2 separate regions of the Homo sapiens genome follow, and region 1 is reported to be linked to region 2. The links are microRNA targets in miRTarBase. Many come from high-throughput screens and were not tested one by one. Region 2 holds a microRNA gene; the other region holds the end of a gene's coding sequence.

Region 1 (7,000 bases), not on the chromosome of region 2:
TGTCCAAGTGTTTGTGTTCAGCTGGGCCAGATGGCAAGCGGGGCCGAGGCTGGGGACCCAGGCCTCCCAGAAGTCCTGGCGAAGCACCCCCAGGCCCTCACTCCAACATCCCTCTGCCTAGAAGCCCCTGCCCCGTGAAAGCCACTCAGCAGCCAGATAACAAAGGACAGGGGATGATCTCGCTGAGAAGTCCCAGGGGGATCTTGTATGTCCCGGGAGGAGGGGCCTCCCGGCCTGGCCAGGATTCCAGGTGCAAAGATGCAACTTTTGCCAACGCAGACTTCTTTGAGCTGCACCATTCTGGCCCGCAAACTTTTGAGTTGGTTTGGGACCAGGTCAGCAGCCACAATTGCACGTCAGCAACCAGGGCTGTGTGTGAACAGCTCTGCTTCCCTGTGGGCCCTGAGCAAGGTATGTCCCGCTCTCAGCCTCAGTTTTCTCAGCTGTAAAATGGGGATCATAATAGAATTTTCCCTATGGGTTTTTGACAGGATCCAACCCAACACACGACAGGTGCTTCACACAGCTGAAGTATCTTCTATCCCTCCTGGCTGAGTCAGTGCTGCCTCCCCTATCTGACTGGAAGCTCCCTGAGGGCAGAGGCTGGGTCCTCAAAAGGAGGTAGTGAATTGGGGTTTGTCTGTCTCCCTCCCCTGCCCAACATCCTCACAGACAAAAGGTAAACCTCAAAACCAGCATTAAGACTTTTGGACATCTGAGCTTGGTTTGGTAAACTCCTACTCACCCTTCAAAGCCCAAGTCAAAATGCCCTCTCTTCCAGAAAGCCTTCCCTGGGCCCTCCTCTGGGTTTTCCCAGCCCCTGGCCTTTGGGCTGGCCAACCTTGGCCCTGCAGACTGGAGTATCTGTGGCCAGTGCTGCCTCCCCCTCCTGACTGGGGTTCTGTGGGGGCCAGTCCTGGTGCTGAGTTTGTGTCTGATGATGCACATCTGTATCCACAGGTCTGCATGTAGCCATCACATGGGTACGTGTGTGCCCACTGTGTGTGCATGGGTCCCTGTGCTGGGCCCCAGGATGGGCAGCCAGGCCACCTCCCACCAGACAGTGCTGTCTTTATGAGGCCACAGTCAGGCTGGGATACTCTGGCTGGGCTGGGAGCTTATTCTTCCACCAACCCTCAGCCGGGAGGAACTGGGGTGGGAGCAGCCGGCCTCAGGCTCCATCGTGCTGGCCCCATGCCCTGAACGCCACGGTTAAAGCTGCAGCTCCATCTGGGGCAAGGAGGGAGGCTGGGGCCCAGGGAAGGACTGAGTCCCGAGTGGGAGCCCCCGCCCCCACCTCAGAGGCCCCGCCAGGCAGCCTTCAAGGACATACCTGAGGTTTGGCAGCCCCCAGCCTAGCCAGCCCCCAGGGCTGAGTCAGCAGGAAGGGATTCAGGACTTCCCTGGAAAAGTGGCTGGGACCTTGAGGCCTCCCGCCAGTCCCCAGCCCCAGGGCCGACCCGCTCCCCAGGGCCCCGAGAGAGTGGGAGGTGCTGCCTGTGCTCGGCATGGCTTCATGTGCCTGGTGGGGCTGAGTTGTGGAGGGTCGTGGGGGGTTGAGACTGGCCAGCTGGGAGTCTGGGGGTCAAGTGTGTCCCGATGTGTGGGGTGATGATGGGTGAGTCAAAGGGGAGCTGGGCACAGGTGCGCACAGGTGTGCACAGGTATGCACAGGTGCACGCAGCTGCAGGCACCGCTACCTGACCCTAAGCGTGGGCCTTTCTCTGTGTTGAGGGTGCATCTGTCTACCCGTGCTGCTGTGATGAGGGGGGACAGTGTCCAGCGTGTCCCATGGGTCTGGTGTGTCTGGGCTCATGCTCTTTTCGAGTGCAACTGCCTATGTGGCTGTCCTGAGGGTGACAGTGTCACCAATCAGGTGACGAGAAGTTGGCTAGGAAGTATGGGAAGGAGGGAGTCATGCCCCTGACTACAGGGGACAGGGATGGGGCGTGACGAGGGCAGCGTGACCTCGAGATCGATGACAGGCGTGTCTGGCTCTGTGTGACACACTCGCCCTGCCTAGGGTAGTGTTTGTTTCCCTGCATCCACCTCCAAACCTCAGGGTCTGCTGATTCCCCGATGGCCGGGGTCTCCTCCCTCCTGCCTGCCCAGACCCCCTCCACCCTCGGCCCAGGGGTCTAGACTTAGCTCCTGCCCTGGGAGGGCTGAGGCATCGGGACATGGCATTCTCCTGGTCTGCTCTCACCCTGTGGCATCCTGCCTTTGTTTCCACCATTAAAGCACAAGCACTTCCCCCACCTGACCAAAGCCAGGTCTCCCCGCCAGGCTGGCTCCAGTCTTTGGGGTCTGAGGCTGGGTCAGACCCAACTCTGAGGGCTGATGAGAGAGACAGACGGGGCTAGGGAAGTGGTGGGTGGCCACGCCAGGTCCACGAGGCCCCAATGGAGGAGCCAGGGATGTTCAGCCAGGACAGGAGGCAGCTGGCGGGGAGAGGGCGCTGGGCTGCAGGGTTTGGACCCTGGAAGGGCCCCCAAGTAGGAGGGAGCAGACCCCAGTTCCGTGAAAGAAGCATGTTGTAAGAAGCTGAGTCCTGCACCAGCTCCAGGGGAGTCTTTGTCACGAGATATTGTGTAACCTTCTCCTGCTTCAGCACAACCCATAGCTCCCTATTGCTCACCAGAGAACTCAGGCTCCTCACTCAGCATTCGAGCCCCTGCTCACCTCCACTTTGTGTCTCCCTTCTACTGCCGCCCTCCGTGGGTCTCCCTCCTCCAGCTTTCACGTTCACCTTTCCAGCTCCCTGGTATGCCCTTCCTGCCTTGGCCACCCAGCAAACTCCTACACATCCTTCAAGACCCAGTGCTTATGTCCCCTTCTCCAGGAAACATTGCCCTTCCCCAGCCCACAGTACCCCATTTGCTGTGTGACCCTGAGAAGATTCCTCCAGCTGTGGAATGGGGGTAAAAATCATCCTCCCTAAAAGCATATTTTGGGGATCCCAAGGCAACAGATTTATACTAAATGCCCTTAAAGTGAGTTAGGCTTTGCGGGGGCTGGCTCGGAGGGCTTACAGTCAGTCAACGCTCAATGTGTGTTCATTTTTATCTCCCTCCTCTTGGATTCTGTGGTTTGAAGACTCTTGTTTTAAACATTTTACTGTTCCAAGATTTTTTCCCCATCATGGTGCTAGGAATTTTAAGAACCCCTGGTTCTAAAATTATAAAAGTCTAAAATGCCGTGGGCGGGACCAAGGGCCTGTTTGTGCCCTGAGCTGACCCAGGGTGGCTGCAGCTGGGGGTCTCTTCGAGGGGGTCCCCTGCCCCTCACTCCTCCCAGACTGAGGGGGTGTGGTCTGGCAGCCCCAATTTGGTTGGGGGGTAGACAATGGATTTACCAGGAGGCGGACGGTAGCCCAGGTTCCAGGAGGGAGGGGGTGGGATTCCTGGCTTGAGGGCTGCAGTTGGGGGAGACAGGCAGTGTCAAGAGGCACAAGGCTGTTGACTCAGGTTGATGGCGTCCTTCTCTTGGAGCCTCAGTTTCCTCATCTGGAAATTGTGGCCAAACGCTGCCCTCTTGCAGAGTTATCAGCAGGGATGGGGAGGAGCTGGACTCTAGCCCCGTGCCCTGCCCAGCTTTTGCTTCAGCCATGTCCTCCTCCTGAGATGCCCTTCCTGGCCCAGGCGTGGTGACTGGGGAGGGGGCTTCTGGAGGATGCCCGTCCACCCCTGCCCCACCCTAGGGAAGGGGACAGGGCTGGGCCAGCTGCCCGCTCCATGCCTGGCTGGCCGCCCTAGCCTGGCAGCGTCGGAGGCCCCAACACTTTCTCAATGAAAGGTATTTGGCCGTGGAGCCTGACACCTCATCACCCTCCGCCTGGAAAGCTGCAGCCAGCTTTGCCCGCTTCAAGTGGGAGCGCCCCCATTCCCACCCCTCCCCAGGACCCCCACCAGGCAGCCCTGAGCAGGGTTCTGTGGCAGGCAGGCCGGGAACCTAGGTTGCCTTGGGAGGGGCCTGTGCCTCTGAGCCTATCAGCTGGGGGTATAGAGACAGTAAGTTCTGGATAAATGTGTGTTCTCCCAAGCCCTGCCAGCTCCCTCAGGGACCTCTCGCCTCTCTTGCCTGTCACAGCCTATCGAGGGTGAGGCTGGGGTGCCAATGTCTGGGGCTGCCCAAACCCAAACTCCAGCAGAGCCCTTAGGGCCCACCTTCAGAGACCAGGGGTGACGCCTCGCATCTTGGGCTTCTCCCATGCCTCCAGGCCCCCAAGTCCACCCTAGGGCAAAGGAAGTGTTTCCCTGACTGAAAGGGTGAGAGCTGCGGAGGTTCGGATTTGCCAAGACCTCAGCCGAAGGGGGGATGTGGCCAGTGGACAAGAGCCAGGGACCCTCTGGGTGGAGCACTGGCCCAGGGCATATTGGGGTATGCACGTGTGAGCCTGTCTCCCCCTAGAGAGATAGGCTCTCTCAGGTCCCCTGAAGTTGCTAGTGCAGAGCTCACACCTCTAAATGCTGGATGGGTGAATGATGAGATCGGGGGTCTGGAGAGGGGAGCCAGTGAATGGGTGGGAGATTGAAGAGGAAGTGGGTGGTTGCCCCCTAAGCTAAGGGACGCTCCATACCCCCACTCCCTAGGGGGTGTCAGCCAGGGACAAGTCTCCCATCCCAGGTGCCCTGGAGGCCACTCCAGTCTTGCCACATTGATGCCTTCATCCCCAGACCCTGGGGAATCACACACCTAGAGCTATAGGGGGCTCAAACCTGCTGGGATTCATGCCAGACCCCAGGACTTCAGTTTTTCTGTCTGGACAGTGGGGGTGTGGTCAGGACAGCGCCGGCCCTGTGGAGCGCCAGGAGGACACACGTGCACACAGACTGCCAGCCAGCCGTGATTCTGCCGCCTCCAGACCCAGGGTCCTGGCAAGGTCAGAAAGCCCTGGCCTCGGGCAGCCCCGTCGCCACATGACCGAGGTGTGGCCGGGGTTCAGGTGGGTGGGGCCCAGGGTGGGGCTGCTGTGGACTCGACTGAGGAGGTCCAGGGTGGCCTGGCTTGCTGTTGCCTGCCCCAGAGGCTCCCCTGCCAGGGCCCCTCCCTGCCTGCTGTAGCCCCGGGGCATACGGCCAGGCACAGCCAAGGAGTCCAGGCCAGAGCAGCAGGCTGCCACTGTGTTCAGCGGTCACAGCCGCCCGTGCTTCTTGCCCCCGGCACCCGCGTGTGCCTCCGCGTGTTTCTGCCTGAAAGGTGTATCTGGGCCGGGCAGCCCCAGCCTCCATCCTTCCTCCCTAGAGCCTGACACCATGAGTTGGAAATAAAGCATTTTTAATTCAGCCCCCGGAGGGCCTGCCCAACGCCCCGGGCAGGTCTCTAAGCACCAAACACGTGAGAATTGTTCCCCTCAGCCCCAGAGCCTCCCCCGCATGGGAACCCCTTCCTCCTTTTCACTGGGCCCAGCCTGGACCCCACACCCCCACTCACACCCACAACCAGCTCCCCACACTTTGTTTCAATAAATAACCCCAAAAACAAAGCTCGGGGCAGGGGACCTGGTCTAGCACTGAGCTCCAAACAGGCAGAGGGGACTTTGTGCCAAACGCCAGAACTCCCAAGGGTAGAAGATTGAAATCAGGGTCAAAATACGCACGAGAAGTCAGAGACGGCTTCTGAGCTGGGAGCGGGTCCCTTCAGGCTAGGGTTGAACGTCGTCCCCTGGGTGCTGGCCCCAGAGTCACCGCAAACTCCATTCCATACCACACAGCAACAATTGTCTTCCTGGTGTTTCTACCATCGGATGCTCTGGGTTCTTGTCTGACTCTGAGTTCTGGAAAGGGGCGGGAAAGGGGACCCAGACACCTGGGGAGGGGGCTGTCTGGAGAAGAAGGAGGGGCAAAACTTCCTGGGGTCAAAGGAGTCTGGAGGGAGGTGGGAAAGCGAGGCCCCTGCCCAGGTCACTGCCGGACCCTACCCCGGCGGGTGCGGAGGGGACCTGAGGCCCGGGCCTGTGCCTGCGCCGCCTCGCTCATCTCCCTGCGGATGTCACCAAGTGCTGTCGCCGGGGACTCCAGCAGCCTCTGGAAGAGGCTGGGTCGTCCGGCCGGTGGCTCCCGGCACTGGAAGGTGACGGCTGTGCCGGCATCAGCCTTCATCTCTCTGGAGAAGCCGTCAGAGGAACCATCAAAGCAGCGGCCAATGGCGATCTCCTTGGCCAAGCGTGGGCTCTGGTCAGTGACAGTGTAGACGCCATAGTTGTGGCCCAGAGGGTCTAGGGGGGCCAGCATGGAGAAGGCAGCTGGGTCCTCCGCGGGCACCGGTGGGGGGTGCCGGGTCAGGTAATCCCGAAGGAGTCCGTTGACGGCCACGCGCCGGCAGCTGCCCTGGGGCATAATGGTCACCAGCGTCCTGTCCACCTGCCGCTGGTCGAACAGCATCCCGCTGCACTTGAACTCCACGCAGGCTGCCGAGGTGCCCGGACGCTCGGGGTCTCGCACACTCCGGGCATCCCGAAGTCCGTAGAGCTGGCCGCGGGTGCGTGGGTGGCTGCCCCCTGCGTTGTGGGAGCGGACCATATACTCCTGGGGACCCTGGATCTTCACCTTGAGGAAGCAGGCCCGGAACTCCTGCGGGTTGGGCCACCAGGCCAGGAGATCGCCAGTCCAGGAGGCAGGTGTGCCCTCTCGGAAGGGGACCACGTTGTACTCGTACTTGTCCGCCTCCACCCTGGCGAAGCGGAAGTGGCTGGCAGTCACCGGGGCCCCCTGGCATTCCCGCAGGCTGCGCCACGGGTACACAGGCCCATTGGCCTCGGCGGGGTCACCTGGCCTGGGCTTGGCGAGGTTGATGCGGAAGCCGTTACGCTTGAAGGCGGGATCGTCGTGGTCCGTCCGACGGTACCCCAGCCTGTCCAGGTAGGGCTGGGTGACGCCCACGGTGGCCGGGAGTGGGCGGGGCAAGGAAGGGGCCGGCTCCAGCTCCTCGCCGCCCAGGGTGGCGGTGACCAGGGCGGTGTAGGCGTCTGGCCTGTCGGCGTCGCAGAAGGCGGGGAGGC
Region 2 (7,263 bases):
TGGGATTACATGTGCCACCCTGCCTGGTCACTCTTAGCTAATTTAACCCTTAACTTTTTTTAACCCTTAGACTTTATCCTTGCACCGAGTATATAAACCCCTTAGCCAAACTCACTTAAAAAACCCAAATGTGTGCTCAAACTTGCTTGATGATAAAAACTAAAGAACTTAAAGGAATGAGGATGATGAAGGCCATTATGCCATGATACACAATTATTTCAAATACAGTGGGCAACACCCCATGTCATTCCAGAAACCTACCTTTCTGTAGTTTTTCAAGTCTGTGAAAAGCATTCTTTTTAGAATGCTATGAATTTAAGGAATAATATTTTGTAAGCATCTAAAGGTTTGGTGAAGTCAAAATCAGTATTTTTTTTAAAGTCTAAATATTTATCCAAATAGTATAAGGCTTGACATCGCTTTATATTATTGGACCAAGAGGAAGACTTTTTAAAATAAACCCATTAAAAAGTTTTAAACATATTACACAGTTACAGTTGCCTGATTTTTTGTGTGTGTATACAATTTACTGTCATAACACTGAAAACTCAACAAAGCTGGCTAATGCAGAGTTTTGACAGAGGGTGAATTAAACTGATATAGAAGGTAAACAGTTTACATTCAAACCTAAATCTCAGTGGTTGATATTTTTTCTTTTAACGTGTACCATTTGGCTGCTTTAAAAATGAATTTGAGACCAGTCAGCCTTTAGTATTTAAACCTAAAGCAAATAGTAATAACTATCCCCATTTAGAGATTAACTTCAATTCAGCAGGCAGTTCTGTAAGCCCTTTTCCTATTAAGTATTCCTAGATCTGTCCCATTGTAAATCACATATTCTGAAGATTCATATTATTAATTCATTTTTCAAATTTTTCATCACAGACATTCAACAGAATCAAAAATAACCACTATGTCCTATAATGTACTGGTATCGTTTCAGCCAGAACAAATGACATCTGACATTTTAGTTACACTCTGTGTTCTCAACTAAGAAGAAATGCAAGCTTTACATTAGGTGGTGGGTTTTTGGTTTATTTTTTGCTTTTTCAATATGGAAAATAGCTTGTGGACTATCACTAACACCTCTGTGGTAACTTAGTAATGCAGGATCTCAGCAAAGGAGATCATCAATCATGGAGGTCGAGGTTTTTCATCTTCCCCTATGACCTCACCTATAGACCTACCTGCTATTATTATAGGCAAACAAGTAGAAGAAATTTACATGTTTGACTTTGGCTCTGCAGTGATGGGTCTACTCCTAGATATCAACAGTAAGTTCTGTAGTAGACAACAGAAGCAGTATGATGAGTGAGCACTGGAAACATGAAGTCCAGTATTCAAATTCTGGCTTATAACCTTGGCTCCTGGCAATGTAACTTTAGGCAAATCACTTCAAGTTTTTTCATCAGGAAAATGTGGGTTGTTGAGAATTTAATGAGATAAAATATACAAATCCTAGTATATAGCAGATCCCCAATATATGTTAATCTCTTACCCTTGTTAACAATTAAAATACTACTGCAAAATCAGGTATTTTACATTTTTAGAATCACAAAATAATACCATTCAAAGACATTTTCTCAGACATTCATTTGAGTCTGCTTGTACAAATTACTGCACAGTCTATCCCACAGTTCATTAGTTCTCTGCTGCACACAAATTGATTTTATAATTTAAATACTCTCGACTTGAAACCCAGAGAGGAATGTAAGAGCATCCATCAGCGGTGGTCTCACTGCTCACTGGTTCTTGGGATGTGGATGGGAGAATGAAGAAGGGCTATCAGGCCAGCCTTCAGAGGACTCCAAGGAACATTCAACGCTGTCGGTGAGTTTGGGATTTGAAAAAACCACTGACCGTTGACTGTACCTTGGGGTCCTTACAGACGACACTACATTTCCTGAAGCAAAAGAGCAAGCTGTACCTTCACATGTCACATGAGTTCACCAGAAATGGTCCTGCAATCCCCCAAATGTGGTCCAGTGAATTTTATTCCTACTGCTCACTGTTCCTTGCTTTCTGTTGTGTGTTTTATTATTATTTGTTTGTTTTTACAAAAAAAGTGTTTCATTTCAACAAGGTAAGGAGCAGTCCATGATGATATCTAATGTACCTACATGTCTCCTAGATATGCACCATTCTGGTGAGAAACAGGACGTAGCAAGTAAAAATTTATTAAAAATACGTATTTTGTTTTGGAATAAAATCCAGTTAAATAATTACTCCCATTTCTCCCACATCCTCTCAAAATTTTTAATTAGGGGCAAGGGGAGGATTTAATAAGCAAAAATAGCACAAAATTATCCAATTGTGACAGTTCTTATCACATTTCACTTTGAATTATAGTTAATATGGTTAATTTTTGATATCCCAGTTAGAGCATGAGCTATTGCCTTACTAGTGCCCACATATCCCCACATATGCTTATTTAAATGTTTGCTAAATTCAAGCAAAAACTTAGCCCTGGAGTCAGTCAGATCTGGGATGAATCTTGGCTCAAGCCCTTAACTAGTTATTTGACCCCCTAAGCAAGTGTCTCAGTTTTCTCACATATAAAACAGAGGCTAAGAGTACCTATCATGGAGTTTTGAGACTCAATGAGATAATATATAAGGTGCTTTGTACCATTACTAGCCCACAGCAAATGCTCAATATATGTAAGCTGTTATTATTAAACTCCAACATAATCTGCTAATTTACCTCAAAAAAGCACTCATACTTCTCAGTTCAAAACAAAGAGGAAAAGCAGGTCCCTCAGCTGTGGTTTACAGGTACTAATATGCAAGCACTGCCTGTGTGGCGCAGTGCTACCTGTGAGGTTCTCCAAGCACTCCTTCCTTCTCTGAACCACAGCTTCCTCATCTGCAATAACCTCCCAGCTCCAATGTCAATGTTATGGACACCTGTGTGGGCCCTCAATCATGCAGATGGCTGGTTACTAAGGGAGAAGCCAGACACACAGACTTCAAAGAACTGAGATGGAAAAGAAGAGCCAGGAGTCAGCCAGGGAGGGCAAAGGCAACCCCACCAACTGAAAACACTGATGGCTGCACTCAACATTCATTGCTGTCGGTGGGTTTGAGTCTGAATCAACTCACTGATCAATGAATGCAAACTGCGGACCAAACAACCCAAAGGAAGCAAAAGCATGTGCAGAGAGTCGCCTGAGTGCAGCAGCTACTGCTGTGAGTGGGAGCTGCTACTATTTCCAAAACACTAGCTAAAGCTTTTCTTGTTCTCCTTGGTTCTAACATGGAGTAAGTTCTCTAAATTCCTAGTACTTTTCTCCTTTTTCAATAGTCTAGATTTAAGGAAATGATATTTTATAGGAAGAATTAAATACATATCTGGATATCACATCACATTTTAAAAATCAGTACATTCAGAATTTCTAAACAGAATCATATGCTTATTATTTAGAAATTCAAATACAAAAATATACAAAGTAAAAATTGAAAATCCCTTCAATCATCATCTGCAATCCATTTCCTCGGAGGAAAACATGTATAATTATAATAAACTTATTAAGATAATAAATATCATAACTAGAATTTATTTTATATCCTTGAAGACCTTTATCCATACATACACAGATAAATAGCTGTAATTTTGCATGTTTTGGGGGGAGAGTGGCTTAGACAAAAATAAGCTCATTTTTACCTATTGTTCTATAATCTATTTTGTTATTCAGCTATATATCATAGACTTCCACAACAGTCTTTTATGTACTCGTCATTCTTTTAAATGGCTATATAGTATGACTTAATATGAATGTTCTGGTTATTATTCAGATGTACATCAATATTCTCTTTTGACAAAAACTATGAGGCTCATTCATTCTAACCTTTGCAAACCATGTCCCTCAAACAGGAAAAACACCTAAGTGAGATAGAAGATGTACATTTTTCTTAACAAAAAATTTAAATGTAGTATCAACTCTCTAAATCCTGTAACATGAGATAAGCCACTAAATCCCATGTTAAAGAAAGAAAAACAAGGCCCTTGGTCATGAATAATTTATCATACACTTAAGTCTAAGAAGAAGCAGATTCTCATAGCAAAAGTCAAATAAGACAGTAAGAGAAGAGTCTTGTCAAATTAGCCTTGACAATTAAGCAAGCCTTAATTTGACAAGGCTTTCCTGTCAAATTAGGAAGGAGAAGTGATGGGGTAATGAGACAAGAACCAGAAAGAGAAATCAAAGCCAAAAGAAAAATCTAAAGAAAACTATGAGAGTTCAGAGAAAATATCAGGTTCAAGCCAGTGTTTCCCAAACTTCTTGTACACCAGAATCATCTAGAGTTGCTTTTAAAATGGCAAATTCCTGAGCCCTACTCTAGACGAGGTGATTTTGGGTCACTGGAAGCTGGAAGCAAAGTAAATAAAGTTCACTAGCTTAACATCGGCTTCCTGCCCCCATCCCACCACCACATTTCATGTCATCCACTTTTCAACTATTGCCCAACCTTTTGTGTCACCACCTGAAATCGCCACTATTCTGCTGAGTGCAGACAGGTAGAGTCACATTTGTGCTGCTTTTAAGTATCTCCAGACTACATAAAATTTTGCACCATGTTTGGTGGCCAAATATACATCAAATTGTGTCTGATGTTTTATGGAAATGAATGGATTTGGATTTACGCTATCTAAAAAACTAAAACCTACCCAAAGAAATTACCAAAAGGTTTTTTTGTGTGTGTTTTTCTTTCGTTTGTTTGTTTTTTTGAGACAGTCTTGCTCTGTTTCCCAGGCTGGAGTACAGTGATGCGATCTCGGCTCACTGCAACCTCTGCTTCCTGGGTTCAAGTGATTCTCGTGCCTCAGCCTCTCAAGTAGCTGGCCCGCCACCACACCCAGTCAATTTTTGTGTTTTTAGAAGAAATGTGTTTTTAGTAGAGCCATGTTGGCCAGGCTGGTCTCAGACTCCTGACCTCAAGTGATCCGCCCGCCTCGGCCGCCCAAATTGCTGGGATTATAGGCATGAGTCACCGCGCCCGGCCCGAGGGGGTCTTTATAGAAGAGTTTTTTGTGAGACTGGTAGACACACAGAAGGTACTCCACGCAGTCTTGTTTTTCAAGATGCTGTGCATTCTAGGCATTTATTTTTAACCAATTATTTCCAAAATTTCTGAAAACATTAGAAAAGAATGTCTGACACGTACTTTGAAAAATGTACACTTGAACAAGCATGCTATTTATTTACAGACTATTACATAGTCTTTAAATATGCCAATGAAACAATTATATATTTCATTAAACCAAATCCAAGTTTTCTCTTGGATAAAACTAAGTACTACAAGAAGGGAGACAATTATGTAAGTTAAAGGGTGTTTTCTGCAGATAGGCCTCAAAATAAATACCTGTAACAGAAAAATTACATGGCATGTATAGGGGACAGGAAGAGAATAGTCCAGAGACTGTATTAGGGAGTCATAAGGAATGGCACTGAAAAGGTAAAAGGACATATTACAGAAGGACTTGTGAGCAAGGCGCAAAGTCAATTAGTCCAACAGAGAGCCGTTTTAAATGCTAAACTCAGCAAGGAGACAATGAAAGCAAGACTGGGAAGAGTCACTAAGCAGATGAAGTGAGGGGAAGAAAAGAGAAAAAAGAGAACTTTCTTGCACAAGTTAGCAGGGGTAGAACTGAGTCAACAGGAATGGAATGAAAGGAAAGGTTATCTCAAAAAGGCATACTTTGGCTTTTGTTTTTCAAAATAAAAGCCTACTGGCTGACCCCCTTCCATCATCCTGTTCGGTGTATAGCCTCACAGATATTTCAAGATACTTAAAATGCATGTATTTATACTTAGAGAAAATAACATCACAAATTATACATAATGTTCTCTAGCTTTTTTTTTTTTTTTTTTTTGAGATGGAGTCTCGCTCTGTCACCCAGGCTGGAGTGCAGTGGTGTGATCTCGGCTCACTGCAACCTCTGCCTCCTGGGTTCAACTGATCCTCTCACCTCAGCCTCCAAAGTAGCTGGAACAACAGGCACTCACCACCACGCCTGGCTAATTTTTGTATTTCTAGTAGAGATGTGGTTTTGACATGTTGGCCAAGCTGTCTCGAATTCCTGACCTCAAGTGATCCGCCCACCTCAGCCTCCCAAGTAGCTGGGACCACAGGCACGTACCACCATGCCTGGATAATTTTTTGTATTTTTAGTAGAGACAGGATTTTGCCATGTGGCCCAGGCTGGTCTCAAACTCCTGACCTCAAGTGATCCACCCGCCTCAGCCTCCCAAAGTGTTGGGATTATAGGCGTGAGCCACCGCACCCGGCCTGAAATCTTTCTTCACTTAAAATATTGTGGCCATCTTTCCATATCGATATATCAGAACCACCTTCCAAAGAACTGGCTCAAACAGAAAAGAAAGCAAAGAGTCAAGAATGATGCCAAACTTTCCTGACTAGATTAGGAGCCTGGAGTGTACTAAGAAAGAAATGGGCAATTTCACAATGGAAGAAAGAGGATTCCACTTTTGGAACAGATATCAGAACAAGGAATGCACATTTATGATTCATAAGCATGGATCTGAGAAAGAATGATCTAAGTGCAGAAAGAAAAAGGTAACAAATACTTATTGGACACCTAGTGTATACCTGGACTGCAACAGGAGCCAGGAGACATGGAAGAAACAAAAGTATATAACGTAAAAGGCAGAACTAATTCTAACGAACAAATAGCTAATTGCAAGTGTGAAGAGCTCTGCAGAAGATAAAAGTAAGGTACTATGAGAGCAAATAATAGGAGGGACCAATCCAGTCTTGGTGGTAAGAAGGGTCAGGGAACTTCCTTGAGGAAGTGATGTATAAGTAAAGACTTCAAGGGTATGTGTAACTACCTTGGTGAAATAGAGTAAGCATTCCAAGCATAGAGAATGGATGGTATGTTGTGTAGGCCAAAGAAGCAGTGTTTTTACAAAACAGAAATTGTGACTAAAGCACATAAAAAGATGGTGAAAAAGTCATGAGACAAGGCCAGAAAAGAAGGTAGGATTTAAAAAAAAAAAAAACAGATTACTAATAGTTTTGGAAAGAACAATTTTGGCGTTCTAGTCATTGTGGAAATAGATTTCTGGAAAGGTAGTGATGAAGAGCTTGGGCTAAATGAGGGTAAAAATCTCAGCTGTTACTTAGCAACTATATGAACTTGAGCAAATTACTTAACCTTTAAATCTGTGTCATCTGTAAATAGGAGATACAACAATAGTATTTGCTTCACAGGGCTGCTTGAAGATTAAGAATACATGTA

The links. Region 2 holds the annotated microRNA hsa-miR-181b-2-3p (CUCACUGAUCAAUGAAUGCA, at 3,097-3,116, shown strand). A microRNA usually pairs through its seed, bases 2 to 8, with sites in the 3' UTR of a target mRNA and lowers its output. Matches are read on the target gene's strand: a 7mer-m8 pairs with bases 2 to 8, a 7mer-A1 pairs with bases 2 to 7 and ends in A, and an 8mer does both.
Region 1: the mRNA of CILP2 is a reported target of hsa-miR-181b-2-3p. Seed matches in the 3' UTR shown: 7mer-A1 at 5,396-5,402.

Annotation. Positions count from the first base shown.
Region 1 is chr19:19,544,920-19,551,919 of GRCh38, reverse strand. It overlaps CILP2 (cartilage intermediate layer protein 2), which reads right to left. Exons shown (of 8, transcript NM_153221.2): 8 at 5,261-7,000. The coding sequence ends at 5,904. Among named protein-coding and RNA genes, the nearest start is that of CILP2, 10 kb to the right of the region's middle. RefSeq lists an enhancer at 5,855-6,538.
Region 2 is chr9:124,690,667-124,697,929 of GRCh38, forward strand. MIR181B2 (microRNA 181b-2) reads left to right here and starts at 3,044; the gene lies at 3,044-3,132. The region is part of intron 2 of NR6A1 (nuclear receptor subfamily 6 group A member 1); the gene reads right to left. The region is part of intron 1 of MIR181A2HG (MIR181A2 host gene); the gene reads left to right. It overlaps MIR181A2 (microRNA 181a-2), which reads left to right and starts at 1,776; the gene lies at 1,776-1,885. RefSeq lists an enhancer at 4,356-4,901.